3 linked regions of the Homo sapiens genome follow. The protein of the gene in region 3 purifies or fractionates together with the protein of the main gene of each other region. This does not show direct contact. Each region holds a gene or a part of one and is shown on either strand. Other genes may lie near its edges.

Region 1 (8,261 bases), 7.6 Mb from region 3:
ATATGAACTGCCTTCATCTTTATCACCAAGTATTACAACCAGTCGTAAACAACGGTCAGGACAGCTCTTTTGCAAGGAGGTCAAAGTCCTGCCAACATCGAATCCTGCAGAATACTCTTATAAGTAAAACCTCAGTACGTAAATACAATCCATATTTAACCAAAACAAAAGCTGAGGCTCAGAGAAGTTAAATGAAGTGCCAAGGGTCGGGGAGGGCTTTGGGGTGATTCAAGCACATTACATTTACGGTGTACTTTATTTCTATTATTACACTGTCATATATCATGAAATAATTTTACAACTCACCATAACGTAGAATCAATGGGAGCCCTGAGCTTGTTTTCCTGCAACTAGATGGTCCTATCTGGGGGAGAGGGGAAACAGTGACAGATCATCAAGCATTAGATTCTCATAAGGTGTCTGCAAACTAGAACCCTCACTTGTGCAGTTCACAATAGGGTTCACGCTCCTATGAGAATCTAATGCCGTGGCTGATCTGACAGGAGGTGGCTCAGGTGGTAATGCAAGCAATGGGGAGGAGCTGTAAATACAGATGAGGCTTTGCTCACTCACTCAGCCACTCACCTCCTGTAGTGTGGCCCAGTTCCAGTACCGGTCTGTGGACCAGGGGTTGGGGACCCCTTGACCTAAAGCACAGCAATATCTGAGTAAAACAATTATCAATTATATCTAGTGAAAAGGGAACTGGAACAGACTATCAAGCAATGATGAGTATGTTTTTGCAATATAAAAGGGACAATGCCAGTGATGACCAGCTCCCAACTCCCGGAAAAAAAGAGATTTCATATGCATTCCCAAGTCAAGAGACATGCATTACCACCAACATATCATCTACTAAATACCATTAACAAGAGCGACAAAATATTTTTAAGCAAAGGCTAAAATAACCTACTCTCCTGACGGTCTAAGTGAAACAAAAACTCTTAACGATCTACGTACAATCCTCTAATTGATTTAAGTCAGCTACTCTTGAAAAACCCAAATACATAATACATCTACACTAATTTTTAAATCCAGAATGTGTCCTGGGTTTAGTGATTCAGAGTATCTAAATCTACATATACATAAAATTATCTTCTCTTTGGGAACAGGCTTCCAAAAATGTCATCTTTTGCTACTGACGGCATGCATGTGTGTATAAAATCCAATTATAAGTGTTTCCCTTCTCTACACCTGGGCAGAACACTGTACTGAGGAACCAATAAAAGGAGATGGTCTCCAAACACAGGTGGGCCTGCACCACTGCTCAGCCATGTTTACAGGCCCCACTCCCAAGGCTGTCTTTACAAGCTTCCTACCTTATTCCTGATAAATCTGTTTGTTTCACAAAGGAAAGGAGACAATCAGGCTGGAAACTCCTTTCCGTGCCCGTGACTCCTGTCCTGTCTCTCAAAAATTCTTCCCTAACCTCTAAGAGTCTCTCCATCCCATCAATGCTCTGAAAATCCATTCCTTCCCATGTCCTCATTTTTGAGACAAAGTCTCGCTCTGACACCCAGGCTGGAGTGCAGTTGTGCGATGATGGCTCACTGCAACCTTCGCCTCCAGGACTCAAGCAATCCTGCCATCTCAGCCTCCGGGCAGCTGGGTCCGTGGGACCACGGGCATGCGCCACCGGACTTCACTAATTTTTTTTTAATTTTTTTGTAAAGACCAGATTTCACGATATTGCCCAGTCTGGTCTCGAACTGCTGGAAGCAAGCCATCCTCCCACCACAGCCTCTCAAAGTGCTGGGATCACAGGTGTGAGCCACCGCGCCCAATCTTATTCCACTCATTTTACCTTCAGCCTCTCCGGAGGCTCCTCTCCCCCTATATACACAACATGCTCAAGTCCCTTTACTCTCACCATTCCTATTTACCATCTTTTGGGGGTAAAACCATGGTACCTAATTACAACTCTTACTTAACCAAATTATAATTGCGGCTCAGGTGGTTTAAAAAGTGCCCTCAGGAACTCTGCGCCTCACCTCTCCCAGCTGTGATAAAACCCCGTGAACCTCCTATCATTGCTCTTAGGTGATTCTGTAATTATTAATATTACTTGTGTATGCCTTGGTCTCCCCACCAGACCATGCGATCGTTACCATCAGTAAGCAGGGCCCTTCGTTTTCGTCTCTGTGGCGGCTCGCACTCTACCAGGGCTCCCGGGTGGGTCCCACAGATTCCTGTGCCCTAAATGCTGCCTCGCACGTTGGTACTTATGCACAGGCAATATACTCCACCTAGAACGTTAGACTTTTTTCCACCTGCCAGGCACACTCCCACTCATCAGTCAGATCTCGTTTGCACATTTCTTTATAAAGTCGTTCCTTACTCTCCCCAAGACACACGCTTTTAAGTCTCTCACATTTGGTACATATAACCATTGCAGCGCTAATTACATCCATACATGTATTTGTTTACAAATCTATCTCCCATCCTACGTTGTGTCCTAAGTGGGAGGGACAGTGCCCAGTCGTTTTGGTGTTCCCTGTGCGAAGCAGCGCCTGGCACTCAGCAGGTGCTTAATAAATGCGACTTGAGTGAATGAATGGCGACACACGTGCCCCAGGAGGTGCCCCAGGAGGTGCCGTCTCTAACTATGGGCTCTGCATGGGCGATTCCCTTCTAATACAAACGAGGGTTTGGTTTGCAGGAAGGAGGGCGGGAGGTACCGAGGCGGAGGTTTTCAGGGCTCGTGGCGGCGGGGGGCAGGGGATTTAAATTGCTGGGCGAGCCGAGGCCGACGGCCGGAGGAAGGAGGCGAGAGGGCGGGGACTCCCGCGTCCGGGCGGAAGGAGGGCGCAGGGAGGAGCTGCGGCCGTAGGGCTGCCGGTCGGGCGAGGGGTAGGGGAGGCTCCCGCCCACTCCCGGCCGGGGCCCCGCACTCACTCGTCCCCCTGCAGGAGGCTGCGCTCCGTGATGGGCCGCACGGCCGTCCTCGGGGGCTCGGCGCCCGGATCCGAGGGGCGGAAGCACAGGCTCAGCTTCTCCTCCAAGCTGCAGGCCGGGGCCGGGAAACCGTCGGCGCCCCCACCCGCCTCGGCCCCCGCCTCCGCCCCAGGCTCGGGGCTCGCGTTACAGTTCTCCTGGTCCAGGAGGCTCCGGGCCGGCTCCTGGAACTCATAGAAATCCTGCCAGTCCCCGTCCGCCGCCATCGCCGCCCGGAGCAGTCGCGCGCCCCGCCCAGGCCGGCCCAGCCCGCCCAGCCCGGCCCCGCCCCGGCCCGAAGCCCCGCCCCCGCCCGCTACCGTGCTGACAGATCCCAGGCTGTCCCAACCCTGGGTCTCCGGTGGCCTGAGTCTTCCTGGAGTTGAACGCGGTGCTACTAGAAAGCCAAGACCTTAACTGCCTTGAGTCACTTCCTATATTCTCTATCATTTAGGAATAACTTCCCTGTTAGCTTCCCTTATTAGCAACTTGGCCTAAATGTGGCTAAAATAAAGGACTTCTTTAAACTTACGACCTAATATCAGATTACGCCCCGAAAGTCGTTTTCCCCAAGGTAACCTGCTCCTTTCCTAACTTGCCAACCAGAATAACAGCCAGAGTCAATGGGAAATGTTTAGGTGGTACCGAAGTTCATTCCTCAAATATTTTACCTCTCACGTGCAAAGCACTGGCTAGATCCTGCAGAACATACAAAGATAATTATGCCAGTTAACATTTGCAAAGCACTTAGAGCAATGCCTAATAGTAGATACCCTATGTGTATGTTATAACTAATACATGGGTGCCCCATACACAGGGCTTACAATGTCGGAGTGATAAGAGTAACAAGAAATTGTTTAGACCTCATAAAAACTAAGTGTGATTGGGCGGTTCAGTTTTGCAAGATGAAAAGAGTTATGGAGATGGATGGTGGTGATGGTTCCACGACAGTGTTAATGTGCTGAATGCCACTGATCTATACACTTACAGATGGTTAAGATAGTAATTTTATGTTTATTTTACTACAATACAAAAAAATTGGAGTAGGCCAGGCGAGGTGGCTCACATCTATAATCCCAGCACTTTGGCAGGCCCAGGTGGACGGATCGCTTGAGGTCAGGAGTTCAAGACCAACCTGGCCAACATGGTAAAACCCCGTCTCTACTAAAAATACAAAATCTAGCTGTCAGGCCTCTGAGCCCAAGCCAAGCCATCGCATCCCGTGACTTGCACATATACACCCAGATGGCCTGAAGTAACTGAAGATCCACAAAAGAAGTAAAAATAGCCTTAAGGATGACATTCCACCATTGTGATTTGTTCCTGCCCCACCCTAACTGATCAATGTACTTTGTAATCTCCCCCACCCTTAAGAAGTTTCTTTGTAATTCTCCCCACCCTTGAGAATGTACTTTGTGAGATCCACCCCTGCCCGCAAAACATTGCTCTTAACTTCACCGCCTGACCCAAAACCTGTAAGAACTAATGATAATCCATCTCCCTTCGCTGACTCTCTTTTCGGACTCAGCCCGCCTGCATCCAGGTGAAATAAACAGCCGTGTTGCTCACACAAAGCCTGTTTGGTGGTCTCTTCACACGGACGCACATGAAATTTGGTGCCGTGACTCGGATCGGGGGACCTCCCTTGGGAGATCAATCCCCCTGTCCTCCTGCTCTTTGCTCCATGAGAAAGATCCACCTACGACCTCAGGTCCTCAGACCGACCAGCCCAAAAAACATCTCACCAATTTCAAATCCAGTAAGCGGCCTCTTTTTACTGTCTTCTCCAGCTTCCCTCACTATCCCTCAACCTCTTTCTCCTTTCAATCTTGGCGCCGCACTTCAATCTCTCCCTTCTCTTAATTTCAGTTCCTTTCATTTTCTGGTAGAGACAAGGGAGACACGTTTTATCCGTGGACCCAAAACTCCGGCGCCGGTCACGGGCTGGGAAGGCAGCCTTCCCTTGGTGTTTAATCATTGCAGGGACGCCTCTGATTATTCACCCACGTTTCAAAGGTGTCAGACCACGCAGGGACGCCTGCCTTGGTCCTTCACCCTTAGCGGCAAGTCCCGCTTTTCTGAGGAAGGGGCGAGTACCCCAACCCCTTCTCTCCTTGTCTCTACCCCTTCTGTGATTTTTCTGGGGCAGGGGCAAGAACCCCTCAACCCCTTCTCCTTCACCCTTAGCGGCAAGTCCCGCTTTTCTAGGTGGCAAGAACCCCCAATCCCTTATTTCCACACCCCAATCTCTTATCTCTGTGCCCCAATCCCTTATTTCCGTGCCCCAACCCCCCTTCCCGCTTTTCTGGAGGGTAACAACCCCGAACCCCTTCCCTCCATGTCTCTACGCTCTCTTTTCTCTGGGTTTACCTCCTTCACTATGGGCAACCTTCCATCCTCCATTCCTCCTCCTTCTCGCTTAGCCTGTCCTCAAGAACTTAAAACCTCTTCAACTCACACCTGACCTAAAACCTAAATGCATTATTTTCTTCTGCAACACCACTTGGCCCCAATACAAACTTGACAATGGCTCTAAATGGCCAGAAAAGGGCACTTTCGATTTCTCCATCCTACAAGACCTAAATAATTTTTGTAGAAAAATGGGCAAATGGTCTGAGGTGCCTTACGTCCAGGCATTTTTCACACTTCACTCCCTCCCTAGCCTCTGTTCCCAATGCGATTCCTCCCAGATCCTCCTTTCCCTCCTGCCTATCCCCTCAGTCCCAACCCCAAGCGTCGCTGAGTTTTTCCAGTCTTCCTTTTCTACAGACCCATCTGACCTTTCCCCTCCTCCCCAGGCTGCTCGTCGCCAGGCCGAGCTAAGTCCCAATTCTTCCTCAGCCCCAACTCCTCCACCCTATAATCCTTCTATCACCTCCCCTCCTCACACCTGGTCTGGCTTACAGTTTAGTTCCGCGACTAGCTCTTCCCCACCTGCCCAGCAATTTACTCTTAAAAAGATGGCTAGAGCTAAAGGCATAGTCAAGGTTAATGCTCCTTTTTCTTTATCCCAAATCAGATAGCATTTAGGCTCTTTTTCATCAAATATAAAAATCCAGCCCAGTTCATGGCTCGTTTGGCAGCAACTCTGAGACGCTTTACAGCCCTAGACCCTAAAAGGTCAAAAGGCCGTCTTATTCTCAATATACATTTTATTACCCAATCTGCTCCCAACATTAAATAAAACTCCAAAAATTAGAATCTGGCACTCAAACCCCACAACAGGACTTAATTAACCTCACCTTCAAGGTGTACGATAATAGAATAAAGTTGCAATTCCTTGCCTCCACTGTGAGACAAACCCCAGCCACATCTCCAGCACACAAGAACTTCCAAACGCCCGAACCGCAGCGGCCAGGGGTTCCTCCAGAACCTCCTCCCCCAGGAGCTTACTACAAGTGCCAGAAATCTGGCCACCAGGCCAAGGAATGCCCACAGCCCAGGATTCCTCCTAAGCCGTGTCCCATCTGTGCGGGACCCCACTGAAAAATCGGACTGTTCAACTCACCTGGTAGCCACTTCCAGAGCCCCTGGAACTCTGGCCCAAGGCTCTCTGACTCCTTCCCAGATCTTCTCAGCTTAGCGGCTGAAGACTGACACTGCCCAATCGCCTCGGAAGCCCCCTAGACCATCACGGATGCCAAGCTTCGGGTAACTCTCACAGTGGAGGTTAAGTCCGTCCCTTCTTAATCAATACGGAGGCTACCTGCTCCACATTACCTTCTTTTCAAGGGCCTGTTTCCCTTGCTTCCATAACTGTTGTGGGTATTGACGGCCAGGCTTCTAAACCTCTTAAAACTCCCCAACTCTCGTGCCAACTTGGACAACACTCTTTTATGCACTCTTTGTTAGTTATCCCCACCTGCCCAGTTCCCTTATTAGGCCGAGATATTTTAACCAAATTATCTGCTTCCCTGACTATTCCTGGACTACAGCCACATCTCATTGCCGCCCTTCTCCCCAACCCAAAGCCTCCTTCGTGTCTTCCTCTCATATCCCCCCACCTTAACCCACAAGTATGGGACATCTCTACTCCTTCCCTGGCAACCGATCTCATGCCCATTACCATCCCATTAAAATCTAATCACCTTTACCCCACTCAACGCCAATATCCCATCCCACAGCATGCTTTAAAAGGATTAAAGCCTGTTACCACTCGCCTGCTACAGCATGGGCTTCTAAAACCTATAAACTCTCCTTACCATTCCCCCATTTTACCTCTCCTAAAACGAGACAAGGCTTACAGGTTAGTTCAGAATCTGCACCTTATCAACCAAATTGTTTTGCCTATCCACCCCGTGGTGCCAAACCCATATACTCTCCTATCCTCAATACCTCCCTCTACTACCCATTATTCTGTTCTGGATCTCAAACATGCTTTCTTTACTATTCCTTTGCACGCTTCATCCCAGCCTCTCTTTGCCTTCACTTAGACTGACCCTGACACCCATTAGGCTCAGCAAATTGACTGGGCTGTACTGCCGCAAGGCTTCACAGACAGCCCCCATTACTTCAGTCAAGCCCAAATTTCATCCTCATCTGTTACCTATCTCGGCATAATTCTCGTAAAAACACACGTGCTCTCCCTGCTGATCGTGTCCGATTAATCTCCCAAACCTCAATCCCTTACTAAAGAACAACTCCTTTCCTTCCTAGGCATGGTTAGTGCGGTCAGAATTCTTACACAAGAGCCAGGACCACACCGGGTAGCCTTTCTGTCCAAACAACTTGACCTTACTGTTTTAGCCTAGCCCTCATGTCTGCATGCAGTGGCTGCCGCTGCTTTAATACTGTTAGAGGCCCTAAAAATCACAAACTATGCTCAACTCATTCTCTACATTTCTCATAACTTCCAAAATCTATTTTCTTCTCACACCTGACGCATATACTTTCTGCTCCCCGGCTCCTTCAGCTGTACTCACTCTTTGTTAAGTCCCACAATTACCATTGTTCCTGGCCCGGACTTCAATCCGGCCTCCCACATTATTCCTGATACCACACCTGACCCCCATGACTGTATCTCTCTGATCCACCTGATATTCACCCCATTTCCCCGTATTTCCTTCTTTCCTGTTCCTCACCCCGATCACACTTGATTTATTGATGGCAGTTCCACCAGGCCTAATCGCCACACACCAGCAAAGGCAGGCTATGCTATAGTACAAACCACTACCCCGCCTCTCAGAACCTCTCATTTCCTTTCCATCATGGAAATCTATCCTCAAGGAAATAACTTCTCAGTGTTCCATCTGCTATTCTACTACTCCTCAGGGATTATTCAGGCCCCCTCTCTTCCCTACACATCAAGCTCGAGGATTTGCCCCGAC
Region 2 (7,188 bases), on a different chromosome or scaffold from region 3:
CAGGCTGGAGTGCAGTGGCGCGATCTTGGCTCACTGCAACCTCTGCCTCCCGGGTTCAAGCGATTCTCCTGCCTCAGCCTCCTGAGTAGCTGGGATTATAGGTGCCCGCCACCACGCCCAGCTAATTTTTGTATATTTAGTAGAGACGGGGTTTCACCATGTTGACCAGGTTGGTCTTGAACTTCTGACCTCAGGTGATCCACCCACCTCGGCCTCCCAAAGTGCTGGGATTACAGCCGTGAACCGCCATGCCCGGCCTCAGGCCTAAGTCTTGATGGTGGCCAACAAGGTCTTCTCTTTTAGGCTTTCCTTTGACCCACCATCCACTCCCCTCCCTCCGTCCTGCTGCCAGCCCCTCACGTGTCTCAGGGCCTTTGCCCAGGTCACCCCTGCCTGGACTGCCCTTCTCCCAGTGCCACTCAGTGCACTCACTCCCGTCTCTGAAGTCTTGCTCAAATACCTCCCTTGGTTGTTGACCTCTGCTACCCCAAAACTTGACTGGCCCCCACTCCCCTAGAGCTCGTTCTCCGGACCTTTTGCTCCTCTTTTTGGCCCAGCTTCCAGGTGCTCTATGCCTTGGGAAAGGTCAGCCCTTTCCCTCCCCTGTTCTGCCTCCATCACCGACTTCAAGTGTGTGCGTGGGGACTTTGTAATCCCTCTCCTTCTGCTTGCAAAGCTCCACTAACCTTATATCTCATACACTGTATTAATGTATCCTACATTAAAGAAAATTGCTCCCATGGCTGGGTGCAGTGGCTCATGCCTGTAATCTCAGAGCTTTGAGAGGCCGAGGCAGGCGGATCACCTGAGGTAGGAGGTCGGGAGTTCGAGACCAGCCTGACCAACATGGAGAAACCCTGTCTCTACTAAAAAATACAAAAATTAGCCAGGTGTGGTGGTGGGCATCTGTAGTCCCAGCTACTCGGGAGGCTGAGGCAGGAGAATCGCTTGAACCTGGAAGGCAGAGGTTGCGGTGAGCCGAGATCGCACCACTGCACTCCAGCCTGGGCGACAGAGCGAAACTCCGTCTCAAAAAAAAAAAAAAAAAAAAAGTATAAAAAAGTATCTCAGAGAAGGACGTGGTGGAAGCCAGTGGAAAAGCTGCTGCCAGTAGATGAAGCTGGCCCGATGTGAGCCACGAAACAGAACATGACACCAGGGTGTGAGCCAAAGTGTAAAATAAACACCTGAGGTCCACACGGACCCAGCCTGAGGCTAGTTAAATGAAGGTTTTGCAGTTTTCTCGTCATGTTTTGGAACTAATCTTTGTTTCTGGTCTTGTGTCAGTTCCTACAGCTGCCACAAATTATCACAAACTTGTAGCTTGAAGCCAGAGTTCAAAATCAGTTTAATAGGGTCGAGGTATCAGCCGGGCTGTGCTCCCTCCGAGGGCTCTAGGGGAGAAACCTTCCTTGCCTCTTCTAGCTTCTTTGTCTTCTTTTTTTGTTGTTGTTGAGACAGAGTCTTGCTCTGATGTCCAGGCCAGAGTACTATGGCGCGATCAGATCACTGAAGCCTTGAACTCCTGGGCTCAAGCAGTCCTCCTGCCTCAGCCTCCTAAGTAGCTGGGACTACAGGCATGCATCGCTATGCCTGGCTAATGTTTTCTTTTTAGAGATGGGTCTTGCTGTCTTGCTCAGGCTGGCCTTGAACTCCTGGCCTCAAGCAGTCCTCCCACTCTGAACTCCCAAAGCACTGGGATTGCAGGCATGAGCCACTGGGCCTGGCCTCTTCTGGTGGGATACCCTACCTTGTTTCCACCTGAGTGACCCTCTCCTGGCAGAGAGAGAGCCGGACACACTCCATTTTAGTTTCTTCACCTGCGGCCCCCTTTCACCTTCCTCCCTGAAGGCATAGCTAGTGTAAACTGACTCAAAGCACGTCCAGGAATGCACCTACTGATAAGACATTGAGGCAAGCTGCACCAGCAGCTCCTGGGGACACGCGTGGTGGATGGCACCCAAAACCCCTGCATTTATCTCTTTGTGATAGTTTAAGCCTCTGCACCTGGAACTGTTTATTTTTTGTAACTGCATTTGTAACCAATTAATTTTTTTAACTTTTTGCCAGTTCTGCTTCCGTAAAAATTGCTTCAGCTAAAATCCCCCCTCCCCTATTTAGACCACGGTATAAAAACAAAACTAGCCCCTTCCTCGGGGCCGAGAGAATTTTGAGCGTTAGCTGCCTCTCAGTCGCGGCTAATAACGGACTCTTTAATTTGTCTCAAAGTGTGGCGTTTCTGTATAACTCGCTTGGTCACAACACTGGCTTCTGATAGCAGCCTGTAATCCTTGGCTTGTGGGCTGCATCGCTCCAGTTCCTCCCTCCATGCCATGCTGCCTTCTTTTCTGTCTCAAAGCTTCCTCTGCCTCACTTTTAAAAGGCCCTTGAGATGGCACTGAGGGCCTCCCTGGGCAATCCAGGATAATCACCCCATCTCAAGGGAATATCTGCAAACACTCCTTTCTTTTCTTTCCTTTTTTTGGGGGGAAGGGGAGACAGGATCTCACTCTGTTGCCCAGGCTGGAATGCAGTGCCCAGCATCTTCCATAGACAATAGCATTCACAGGTCCCAGGGATTAGGGCCTGATATCTGGGGCCTGCTACAGCCAGCATCTCAGAGTTCACATGACAAAGAAGAGGCCCCCCAGTCCTCTCCAAATCTGCCCCACCCCAGTCATCTTGGGGATGAATCTCCCCTTTCCACTCTTCCCAAATGCCAGGGCCATCCTTGATTGTTCTTTGTCTCCTCCTCCCTCCACCTCCAGTCCGAGCCCATGGTCCACCCCTCTCCTCTGCAGCCCCCGTCCTCTCTCCTCACAGCACAGAATACGGACTTCACACACATAAGTCAGACGTGCCACTTCCCATCCACCCCTGCTTAAACCTCCAACAGCCACCACCCCCCATTCATTCATTCACAATGTTTATTCAGTGTCTGTATGTGCCAGCCATTGTGTAAGCGCTGAAGAGACGGATACACTGGCAGGTAAAACAGACAGAAATCCCTGCCCTCATGGACCTCCTGGGGTGATGGACAATAAGCAGGGTAAATAAGTGTATTGGTGGTCACTTACTGCAGAGTGACAGGTTACCCCAAATGCAGCTGCTTAACCAGCAGGCATGCATTATCTCCCAGTGTCAGCCAGGCAGGACTCTGGGCCTTTGACACAAAGTTTCAGGAGGCTGTGGTCAAGCTGCCGGCCGATGATGTGGTCTCATGGGAAGGCTCAGCTGGGGCGTCAGCTTCCCGGTTCCCTTGCTGGCCATGGTCATCCCCTTAGGGCTGCCTCATGTCACACCCAGCAATTCAAGAGCAATTTTGTCCTATTCTAGTTGCCAGAAGCAAGTCATTAATAAAGTCCAGCCCAAGGGGAGGGGAGTGCAGAAAAGTCTAAACCCAGGAGGGTATAACAGGGAGCTAGCTGCCAGAATAAAGCAAGCCAAAGTGTACTTTCTACAGTGAGAAGTGTGAAAAATAGGGAAATGACAGGAGAGAGGGATGTGAGAGCTGGGCAGCATGCTGCAATGTCAGAACAACACCAGGGAAGGTCTCACTAAAGTGACTTTTGAGTAAAGACCTGAAGGAAGCATGTGAGTCTGGGGAAAGGATGTGCCAGGCAGAAACAGCAGCATGTGCAGAGGCCCAGGGGGCAGGAGCCAGGACTGGGAGTGAACTGGGAAGCAGGAGGAGGTGAGGCAGGCTTGCTGTGGGAGCACTCCGATATGGAAGCGTAGCTTACAGACCCACTGGCCCTCCCCACAGCACCATGCTGCCAACCTGGCCTTCTTGCCGAGCCTTGAACAGAACCATTATTTATGTGGCCAGGCCTCCGCCTGGGATCTCCCTGTCCCTGGTGGGAGCCATCCTCTTCCTCCTGCCCTCATAGCACCCGCTGCAGTTTCTCCTGGCGCTTGGCCCTGCCTGAGAGTGTGGTGTCTCTCCTATTGGATCCTAGAAGCTCCAGGGAGTCAGAGACCTTGTCTGTTGATCGATATCCAGGCCTAGGACAACAGGCACGTAGGAGGAGCTGGAGGAATACCATGCGCGGGACAGAGAGCGCAGAAGCCTTCTTCCCTGGAGATCGCTCTGTACTGTGACTTCTTTTTTTGTTTGTTTGAGACAGAGTCTCGCTCTGTTGCCCAGGCTGGAATGCAGTGGCGCGATCTCGGCTCACTGCAACCTCCACCTCCCTGGTTCAAGCAATTCCCCTGCCTCACAGGCGTGCGCCACCACACCTGGCTAATTTTTTTGTATTTTTAGTAGAGACGGGGTTTCACCATGTTGGCCAGACTGGTCTCGAACTCCTGACCTCAGGCAATCTGCCCGCCTCGGCCTCCCAAAGTGCTGGGATTACAGGCGTGAGTCACCTTGCCGGACCAACCGTAACTTCTTACGATTAGAGTTAGGAAGCTTCCGGTTTGTGTGTGAAGACGATGGAAGGGCGGGGCTCCAGGATGTATCCGCAGAGCCACGGAGGGAACCTGGACTCGGCTGGACTTGGAGCCGGGGCGGGGGCGGGAGGGGGCGAGGTTCGAGTGGGGCTGCTCGCGGGCGCGAGGGCCAGAGCCCGGGATCGCGCCGTGGAGCCCACGACCGGCGAGGCCAGCGCTGGGGGCAGGGCCTCTGGATCCCTGACCCAGGACGCCCTGCTCCGGCCCGCCCCGCGCACTAAACTCGGCCTCTAGTCGCCTGAAGCCCGCGCGGGTACCGGGTCCGCGCGGCCCGGCCTGTGCCTTTAGCCCCGCCCCGAATCCCCCCACCCTCATAACCCCGCCCCTAACCCCGCCTCCACACACAGACCCCGCCCCCAACCAGACTCCGCCCCGCGCAAGCTCCCTAAGCCCGCGACTGGCCTGCACCCGGCTCCGGAAGTCGTTCTTCCGCGCAGGAGCCCTGAGCCCGCACAGCCCCGCCCCTCCCGGCGCCCAAGCCCCGCCCCGCCGGGTTCCCGCTCGCCCGGCGCCATGGATCCGCTGTCGCCGCCGCTCTGCACGCTGCCGCCGGGCCCCGAGCCGCCCCGCTTCGTGTGCTACTGCGAAGGGGAGGAAAGCGGGGAGGGGGACCGCGGCGGCTTCAACCTCTAGTGAGTGGGGGTCCGCGGGGAGGTAGGGGTGCAGGGAGCTCCGCGGGCGGCCCCGCCTGACAGGCCTTCTCCCCCAGCGTGACCGACGCCGCGGAGCTTTGGAGCACCTGCTTCACGCCGGACAGCCTGGCGGCCCTCGTGGGTAACTGGGCGGGTCTGGGAGCCGCCACACCCCTCCTTGCAGTGCAGATCGTCTATGGGGCGACAGACATCTGGGATTCCCCAGAAGGCTCTGACACCCTCTGCCCGCCCTGTAGCTGTAGTCCTCCCATTGGCTAGGGCTCTGGGGTCGGGCAGGTTTCGGGTGCCCCCAGTGGGCCTCGGGTTCCAGGCAGCTCGTGACAAGCCCCTGTGCTCTCTAGAAAGCCCGTTTTGGCCTGAGTGCGGCTGAGGACATCACCCCCCGGTTCAGGTGAGACCCAAGCAGGGAGGAAGGACGGGTGGGGAGGAGGAGGGTCTGCCACAGCTCTCCGCACCTCTCCTCTCCCAGGGCAGCCTGTGAGCAGCAAGCTGTGGCTCTGACTCTGCAGGAGGACAGAGCATCCCTGACGCTTTCAGGGGGGCCCTCGGCACTGGCCTTTGACCTCTCCAAGGTACCAGGCCCAGAGGCAGCCCCCAGGCTGCGGGCGCTGACACTGGGCCTGGCAAAACGCGTGTGGAGCCTGGAGCGGCGACTGGCAGGTAGGATTGGGGGTGGGCACCTCATACCTTCACTGGGGTCCCCTGCTCTTGCCCCCACTCCTGGCACTGAGTGGGGTTCCCATGGGCTTTCCTCCCCAGCTGCAGAAGAGACAGCTGTCAGCCCGAGGAAGAGCCCCCGGCCTGCAGGGCCTCAGCTCTTCTTACCAGGTAAGGCATGTCCGCCTGTGACTCAAGTAGGGCTGTGCTCTTTAACCTGGAACTCAGTTTCCCCCCAAACAAGACTCACGCTCCAGAGAGAATGCCTATCTATTCGGAGAAGGTTGTGGTTGGGATGCTGCCAGGTTCAGGAGCTGCCCCTGTCCTGTTTTCCCCCAGACCCAGATCCCCAGAGAGGTGGCCCTGGACCTGGAGTCAGGAGGCGGTGTCCAGGAGAGTCGCTCATCAACCCCGGGTTCAAGAGGTACCCTCCCACAGCCCCCTTCCTGCGCCCAGGGTCCAATCCTGGACCCCACCCCTTTCTCCACACCATAGTGCCATAGTGACACCCCTCTTCCCTCCCAGTAAGAAACCAGCTGGTGGCGTGGACTTCGATGAGACCTGAAGGTGCAGCACAAGCGTGGCCCCGCGGGGAGTCCGCCTATGAGGGGAGAGGCAGTCTTTGAGGCCCCCATCAGAGACCCCCCGCCACCACCTCCACCTGCCTGTCCTGGGCCAGGACTAACACGGCTCCTCAAATTCCTTCCCTGTCAAATAAACAGCTCCCTTGGTTGGAGGCTCTGGTGGGGCTCTGACTCCTGGCACTGGCCTGGGAAGGGATCAGGGAACACCCCTGGGCCTGTGTTCTGGGTGTAGGGCCACAGGATGTGAACAGATGCTGCAGCCTCTCAGCTCCCTGGAGACTTCCTTGCTGGGCCGGAGGGAGGTGAGCACTCTCAGACCGTCCAGCTATTCCAGCCCTGCCAGCCCAGGAGCTGAGAGGGGCCCAGCCAGGCAGGGCCAGGGCTCCCCAAGGCTTAGAACTTTGTTCCCACCCTCCCAGGCCGCACCCAGGTAGGGCACGGAGCCCCGTGGGAGGATGCAGACAGAAGTCCCGTGTAGACCCTGAGACACTGGAAGTGCCCTGCGGGGAGGGGAGCGCCTGCCCCGGGACAGGATTGAGGAATGTGCCAGCCCCCATCCACCTGGGGCACCCCGCCCCACCCCGGCCTGACTGGTTTGGGAGCCCAGTCCGGTCCTGGAGATCCCTGAGGCCACCGGTTGCAGGAGGCCTGGAGTCTGCGCCTTCTTAGCGTGGAGGATGGGACCGGCCCGACCCCCGGCGCTCCTGCCCCTGTGGTTCTGGGCTATCGGGCTGAGCGTCCCACCCTGGGGTTTGGGGATGGGAAGTGATCCCGAGACCTCTGGCCCTTCAGATGTCAGGACACCCTCACTCCCGACAAAGATGCCTTTATTGGGCGAC
Region 3 (7,930 bases):
AAAAATTGAGCCAGGTATGGTGGCACGTGCCTGTAGTCCCAGCTACTTGGGTGGCTGAAGCAGGAGAATGGCTTGTGAACCTGGGAGGCAGAGGTTACAGTGAGATGGCACCATTCAACAGAGTGAGACTGTATCCCCTCACCCCCCAAAAAAGAAAGAAAAGTGATTTAGTAAATACAGCCAACAATTCTGTTTCATTTGCATTTAAGTATCTTTTAAAGTTGCCTTTCAGATGAAATAGCCTATACAAGCAAGCATATAAAAATGTACTTAGAACTAGGCTTTAAAATCATTGTATCACAGAGAATTAAACCAGCATGTTCAAAAGTAATCAAGCATATTCTGTTACATTGCTCTCAGTACAAAATATGACATTCTACTGATAGAATGAAAAATAATTTTTACATGATTTTAATCTTATCCTTTCAGGACTCTTTTTCTATAAATACATTTGTAATTTATTAATACAGTATCACATATAACCCAGGAAAATTATAAAACTGGTATGTAACTTATAAATATTTACATATATATATCGAGTGGTTCATCAGATTTTTTTAAATGGCGATATGTAATTTTATTGTAAAGTTCAATAATGATCATACCTGGAAAAAATCTCACAAAGATACGTAGACCCAAATGGAGGTAAATTGATCTAGACCAGTGTCTCTCAAAACTTTAAATCACCAGCATGCTTTTTTGATGATTCCATCTAAGATCTATTGAAAAAAATCCTTAGGTGTGGGAATAGGGCTATGGAGTCTGCATTTTGAGCAGATATAACAGCAAACATTTTATGGTGTTTATTGTGTTTTAAGTGCTGTTTTAAGCACTTTACATTGACTCATTCTTCACAGCAGCCCTATGAGGTATAGGTACAGGTGACTAAGAAATTTGCCCAAGGTCACCTAGTTAGAGTGTAGGGTTAGCATTGTATGTAGAAAACATACCAGAGAATTCTTTTGCATACTTTTGGGAACCATTACTCTAAGTCTAATCTAAGTCATTTGAAATTGGGAAAGCTTTATTCTATAAAATAGTAAAGTTGGGTAGGCGGGGAGAGGGTGATGCATAGTAGTACTTTCCAATTCTAAGGATTTTAAGTCTTTGTCAGTCAACACTGGGTAGCTACTTCATGGATTTTAAGTTCAGCAAAGTGAAGTCCATTTTTTAGCACCATGTTAAAGGTATGTTTTTAACAGAATCAAAGTAATGATAAGGTTTTCAGTTTTATAGATATATAGTAAAAGTGATAAAACCAAATGTGTGTAGAATGGAGATTTTTATGTTTTAATTGAATTTTGGGGTTGTCTTTAGGTTCACTGGGAGGAGAAATCTTGATTTCAATACTTGCTTTTGAAAGTCTTCTAAAGTATATTAGTATACCTTCCTACCTTGATTTATTGAACAAGATGACTCACTGTTTTGAATATTCTCATTGTCCAGTCTTCTGTAAACTTACATGTCGAACCCTAGACTCACCTTGTAAATTAAATCAGAATGAAATTATTAATGAAGTTTTATTTCTTGTTTTTTCCTTTCTCCTAGAACAGTGGTCTCAACGTGGCTGCACATACAAGTCACCAGAGAGGCTTTTAAAAGATGATATCTGTGTCCCATCCCTAGGGATTCTGATTTAATTGGTCTGATTATTCTTACGCGCTAGGGCTGAGAAACCACTGTTCTGTAGGATGTAGGGGAGGAAATTTCTTGGGCTTTTGTTGTTGCTCCCGTAAATTAGGATAATACTAAAAAAAATACTTGAGGTAGGAGTTACTAGACTATAGAGGGAATATTGTACATACATTTTCTGTCAAATTTAAACATTTAACACCTGCATTTTTTATTTCAGATTTATTGCTAAACATGGGTGCATTTTTGGATAAACCCAAAACTGAAAAACATAATGCTCATGGTGCTGGGAATGGTTTACGTTATGGCCTGAGCAGCATGCAAGGATGGAGAGTGGAAATGGAAGATGCACACACAGCTGTTGTAGGTATTCCTCACGGCTTGGAAGACTGGTCATTTTTTGCAGTTTATGATGGTCATGCTGGATCCCGAGTGGCAAATTACTGCTCAACACATTTATTAGAACACATCACTACTAACGAAGACTTTAGGGCAGCTGGAAAATCAGGATCTGCTCTTGAGCTTTCAGTGGAAAATGTTAAGAATGGTATCAGAACTGGATTTTTGAAAATTGATGAATACATGCGTAACTTTTCAGACCTCAGAAACGGGATGGACAGGAGTGGTTCAACTGCAGTGGGAGTTATGATTTCACCTAAGCATATCTACTTTATCAACTGTGGTGATTCACGTGCTGTTCTGTATAGGAATGGACAAGTCTGCTTTTCTACCCAGGATCACAAACCTTGCAATCCAAGGGAAAAGGAGCGAATCCAAAATGCAGGAGGCAGCGTGATGATACAACGTGTTAATGGTTCATTAGCAGTATCTCGTGCTCTGGGGGACTATGATTACAAGTGTGTTGATGGCAAGGGCCCAACAGAACAACTTGTTTCTCCAGAGCCTGAGGTTTATGAAATTTTAAGAGCAGAAGAGGATGAATTTATCATCTTGGCTTGTGATGGGATCTGGGATGTTATGAGTAATGAGGAGCTCTGTGAATATGTTAAATCTAGGCTTGAGGTATCTGATGACCTGGAAAATGTGTGCAATTGGGTAGTGGACACTTGTTTACACAAGGTATGTAAACTTTTTTGTCATTAAAATAACATGTTAATTTTGAAAAGTTACGGTAGGTAAAGTTAAGCTAACTTAAAATTTTAAAACTTTTAATATTTTCACAGAAGCTGTATATTTTGAAGTACTTTACCAGAAATGAAACCATTGTTTTCTTTGCCATCCTTGTTTGTCCCAGCCTTCTAATTTGAAAATTAAGCTTGATAAATTTGAGGCATTTGTTGTCATTTAAGTACTTCATAGCTTGTTGCTGTAGCAAAAGCATTTACACAGAGTGACTTTTTCTTGACATTGGCAGTAACCATCTTATGCCTGATTATGAAGCAGCTTGATAAAATATGTATATAGTAGAATTCTGTACTAGATATTACTAAAAGATCAAGAGCCATGTGAAATATTGGAAGATGTACTAGATGCCTAGCCTGTATAAAATTTAGTCCTGAGCCTCCTAGCAGTGAAGACAAAAACTGAAATAAAAATATGGGTTGTATATTTCTCATTGTCTTCTAAAAGCAGCTCTTATCTGGCAATACAATCTAAAAAGGATTTACATGTGGCTCTCTAAGTAATACATGACTTGGATAGTATCTTTTGTAGAAGATAAAATTCTTTTCATATAGATGTTTTTATTATTTCTGATTAAAAACCAAAGGCTTCTATAAAACATAATCTTGTGAAAAATTCCTGTGGAACACTAAAGTTTATTTAGATTTGTAATTTTGTATGAATCATTGCTTGATACAGTAATAGAAAAAAAGTCCAGAGTAATAGATAATTGGCAATCCTTTGAATATCTTTAAAATACTCAGTTGTTTCAAGTGGGTTTTTGACAGCATCTATATATAATTCAATTAAAATTTGAGTTATCTGGCCAGTGTCTGGAGTGTGTAAGTATTTGACTGAAAAGATACCAAGGTAAAACTGACCTTTAGTTACATGAAATAAATAAAGGGTTTGACTTATTTATTCTGTCTAGATTAGAACCACTGTATCTCCCTACTCCAAAATGTACTGTGGAAGGTATGGGCATAACCAGAAAGTTTTTCAGAAAGGATCTCTGGGTCTCTGGAAATGCCCAGATTTTGGTTAAATACCGATTTCTTTTTAATAGAATGGAAAGAGGCAGTTTTAAAAACAGAAGATTTAAAGGCCGTTCTTGTCAGTGGACAGCCTTTTTCTGAAAGGATTTTAATGATGGTACCTCTAGCTCCTCTGATTTTTATTTTTAACACACTGTATCTTTTTACTTCTGGATGAGTTAAGTAAAGAAGTATTGATGGTTGTCAGTGATCAAATAGTAAGTGGGTCTAAAATTATGTATTTGTCTTTGAACTCTAAATGAAGCAATTCTGACCTGTAGATTTTTGAGACAAGCATAGGCATATGTTTGTTGCCTGACTAGCTAATGAAAACAGCATTTTCCCCAATTATAAAAAAAAGGTATATACTTACTATTGGAAAAAAAATCCAGATGATGAAGAAAATATAGAGAAACACCCAAAATTTTGCCATCCACCCTAAGTCAGCTACTTTCATTGTTGTGGTGTATATTGTTCCAGTCTTTTCTGCCTGCCTGTGAGTGTGTGTATTTTTATAAAACCGAGATGATTATACTTGTTATTCTACAGCCTGCCTTTTCCAACAATATATTGTAGAGAGATCTCCATGCCTATAAGTATTGATCTGTATCATTTTTCTTGGCTGCGTAGTATTTTATTGAAAGAATGAGGTTGTGAGGGAATAGCCAAAAAATCTATTAGGTCTGTAATTTGGACTAAGGAAAGAAGTTTGTGTTAGTAGATTAACTCACTTATCCATTGAAAGGATGCTAGTTTTTGAGAATTTTGACTCGACCCTTCTGAATGAGGTTTAAATATTTCTGGTGGTATATCTTCACTTGCTAGCTTTTATCAATTTAGAGTGATTAAATGTTCATGTTGATGGTGTTAAAAGATTCTAGATGGCATCCTAGAATCTCAGAAATGAGGAATGATAATAACAGACAAGAAGTTGGGGCCCATGATTCATTCAATGTTAATGGAAGCTGACCATCATAGTTCCTTCTAATGGAGCTGCATTCAAATTGAAATCAGTTTGGAGGTTTGAATTGAAACAAAACAGACTTAAAATTATTTTTGAACCTTTGAAAGTTACTTATGGAAACCTTCATTTCTGTTTAACTTCGTAATTTTGTCTTTCCATTTATTTGTATTGTAAAAGCAAGGGTTAGCAATAAGATCAAATATAATTACTTTGAATTTACTCAGAAAAATTGTAAGTTAAAAATTCATGGAAAGCACTTAGCGATTGCACAGTAGTTACCTGCTGTAAGAGGAGAGGAAACATTAATAAGTAGATGTTTCCCTGATAAGAGATTTAAATGAAGTCCTAGTTTTTTCTAACACCTCCATCACTTGTCATACTTTCATAATTTATAAGCACTTTTATCTTAACTCATTAAATCTTGGGAGGTTATCATAATCATAATCGTGGTAGTATTAGTAAATTATTGCTTTCTGTAAGCCAAACACTATTCTAAATACTTTACATATTTTAACTCATGTAATTTTCACAACCATATGAGGTAGTTAAGATGACGAGGTCAGGAGATCGAGACCATCCTGGCTAACGCAGTGAAACCCCGTCTCTATTAAAAAATAGAAAAAATCGGCCGGGCGTTGTGGTGGGCGCTTGTAGTCCCAGCTACTCAGGAGGCTGAGGCAGGAGAATGACTTGAACCCGGGAGGCAGAGCTTGCAGTGAGCCGAGATCACGCCACTGCACTCCAGTCTGGGTGACAGAGCGAGACTCCGTCTCAAAAAAAAAAAAAAAAAAAAAAAAAAGATAAGCATTTTTCAGGGTTGCCAGTTAATATTAATCTGTAAGTGTTGTATGACTGTGGTCAGGTATTATCCTATTTAAATTAGGTATTTAACTCGAGGGGAGAATGGGAGCTAAGAAAGCAACCCTCCCATTTTATTTGCAATGCTGGCATTTATGGTGTTTACTGCCAACTAATTTCGGGTTGCTTAAAATATGTAACTGCCACGTGCATAGCTTTTCATAACTTGTAAATGATACATACTTATTAATCCTCATAGTAACTTTCTGAGGTGAACAAAATAAAAAGTTTTTTTAATTTGCAAGTAAGGAAATGGAGGTTGTTTGATATTAAAAGATATCCATAAGTCATATACTTGGTGAGTATTGAGGCTGAGACTAGTTTTCTGACTCAAGTTTAGTATTTTTGTTAACAATATTTCCCAGAAGGGCCTGATAAAATAAAGAAGAGTGGGTGTGGGTGTGGGTGTGGGTGTGTGTGTGTGTGTGTGTGTGTGTAAGTGTCTGTCTGTTTCGGTTTTCATGGTCTGAGAAATTTTTCCCCAAGGGAAACATTAAGACTAAATTTTTTTTGTAACAAATACAGAGATGTTTGAAGTAAAGTGATTCCCCTTGATGTTTCTGCTTTCCAGTCTCATCTCACTTAGGGAACCACTGCTCATGGTTTGCTGTATATCTTTCCAAATGGTTCTCTGTGATTATTGATAGAAATGTATAAACGTAAAATAGGATTTTTTCTTTTTTTGTATTTTATAGAAAAAGATCATGCTATGTTTGTTACTTTGTCACCTGTTTTGTTTTTCTTAAATTATAAAAGTCGGTATTCTTTTAAATTGTTCTTTTAAAACATTATTTGATTTTCCAAAATTTCATTTATATACCATCTACCAGAAGCCTATTTATTTTAAAACATGAGATAGTACCTCATAGTTGGATAAAATTGAGGGAAATTATCATTTTCCAAAGGCAACATCATTCTATATTAATTTATATAACATAGAAAATGTAACCCCCTCAATAATTGTTTAGTTCTAAACTCAGGAGAATTGCTTGAACCTGGGATGCAGAGGTTGCAGTGAGCTGAGATCGCGCCATTGCACTCCAGCCTGGGCGACAGAGTGAGACTCCGTGTCAAAAAAACAAAAACAAACAAAAAACTGTATCAGATTGTTTTCTGTTTAAGTTTAGATGCCCTTATTTATGGCAGGGGCACTGGCGTCTTTGATCTGGTACTATGATTATTAAGAGTGTTAACTGCTGTGCTGTTGTAAAAAGTAAAAAGAACATGTAATAATCAATTTTTATATGCAGAGCTAATTTCTTTAGTTATCCAAACTGGATTTAGAAAAAAAAATGTTTTATTTATGGACTTAGTGAAAACTTTATACTGATTATACAAGGATGTTTTGTCTCTAAAAAACAATGGCACAAAGGAAAGGACCTTTTCTGTTGCTGTATAACAGCTACTGAAACATATTCATACTTGGTGTTTAGGGGAAAGCCATCTTTACATAGAAATAGAAGCAAGCCAGGCAAGGTGGCTAAGAAGCAACATCACTGAAATCACACATGCCTGAGATGTAAATATAAATTATTTCCCTTAAATGTCTTTGGAGAACCATAAATTTATTGGAACTCTCTTTCAATTAATTTTCCAAAAGTATTTATATTTTATAACTTACAAAAATCGAATGGAAATTAGATAAGGAAATGTTCCACAATGCTCATGTTGTTGTTACCAAAAACTCAAAAGGGTTAAAAGAAATTAGATTTCTAAAAGTGTAAGGTGTTAATTCCGTTTATGCATAAAATTGCTTTATAAAGTGTAATTATGCTTGATTCTTTTTTTGTTGTTGTGTTTTAGAAAGGGTGTCTCACTGTGTTGCCCGGGCTAGTCTCAAACTCCTGGCCTTAAATGATCCTCCTGCCTCAGCCTCCCAAACTGCGGGGATTACAGGCAGCCACCATGCCCAGCTGTTTGATTCTTGAATATCCATGGTGTACTTTAAAATTATTTTTAATTAAAAATTTTTGCTTGAACTGCCCTTATGACATTTATACAAGTATATTCATATAACCAAACACATACAGTATTTCTAATATAAAAGTTTTGGTGGGTTTCATTAAGGAATGAATTAATTTGGCCAATTTGGAAATGGTTTTTCCAGATAACCGGGAATCTAATGAAATACTCAAGTTGGTTCCTTGTTCCAAAGCACAACAATCTGTGACAAGTTAATTTATTTTGAAGTCTTCTGAAGACCCAACCTTCACTGCCTTCAAACTTTACTCCCATTGAATTAGGAGGTGAAGGCAGAAGTTATTCAAGGCCACCTGTCTTTTGGGCTGTGTCATGTAGGTTCTGAAAGGCATAAGTCTGA

The links.
Region 1: the proteins of PPM1B (region 3) and FEZ2 purify together in Homo sapiens (affinity purification with mass spectrometry; 2 studies listed by BioGRID and IntAct, with this or other methods). This does not show direct contact.
Region 2: the proteins of PPM1B (region 3) and PAXX purify together in Homo sapiens (co-immunoprecipitation; 3 studies listed by BioGRID and IntAct, with this or other methods). This does not show direct contact.

What each region holds. Positions count from the first base shown.
Region 1 is NC_000002.12:36,594,982-36,603,242, forward strand, and holds the start of FEZ2 (fasciculation and elongation protein zeta-2), read right to left. Parts: upstream 3,188-8,261; 5' UTR 3,162-3,187; coding exon 2,896-3,161; intron 1-2,895. UniProt on the Homo sapiens protein: Involved in axonal outgrowth and fasciculation.
Region 2 is NC_000009.12:136,987,476-136,994,663, forward strand, and holds PAXX (protein PAXX), read left to right. Parts: upstream 1-4,946; 5' UTR 4,947-4,968; coding exon 4,969-5,087; intron 5,088-5,164; coding exon 5,165-5,225; exon of another isoform or gene 5,226-5,229; intron 5,230-5,449; coding exon 5,450-5,499; intron 5,500-5,577; coding exon 5,578-5,768; intron 5,769-5,867; coding exon 5,868-5,936; intron 5,937-6,104; coding exon 6,105-6,189; intron 6,190-6,290; coding exon 6,291-6,330; coding exon of another isoform or gene 6,331-6,391; 3' UTR 6,392-6,501; downstream 6,502-7,188. UniProt on the Homo sapiens protein: Non-essential DNA repair protein involved in DNA non-homologous end joining (NHEJ); participates in double-strand break (DSB) repair and V(D)J recombination.
Region 3 is NC_000002.12:44,199,334-44,207,263, forward strand, and holds part of PPM1B (protein phosphatase 1B), read left to right. Parts: intron 1-1,852; 5' UTR 1,853-1,866; coding exon 1,867-2,712; intron 2,713-7,930.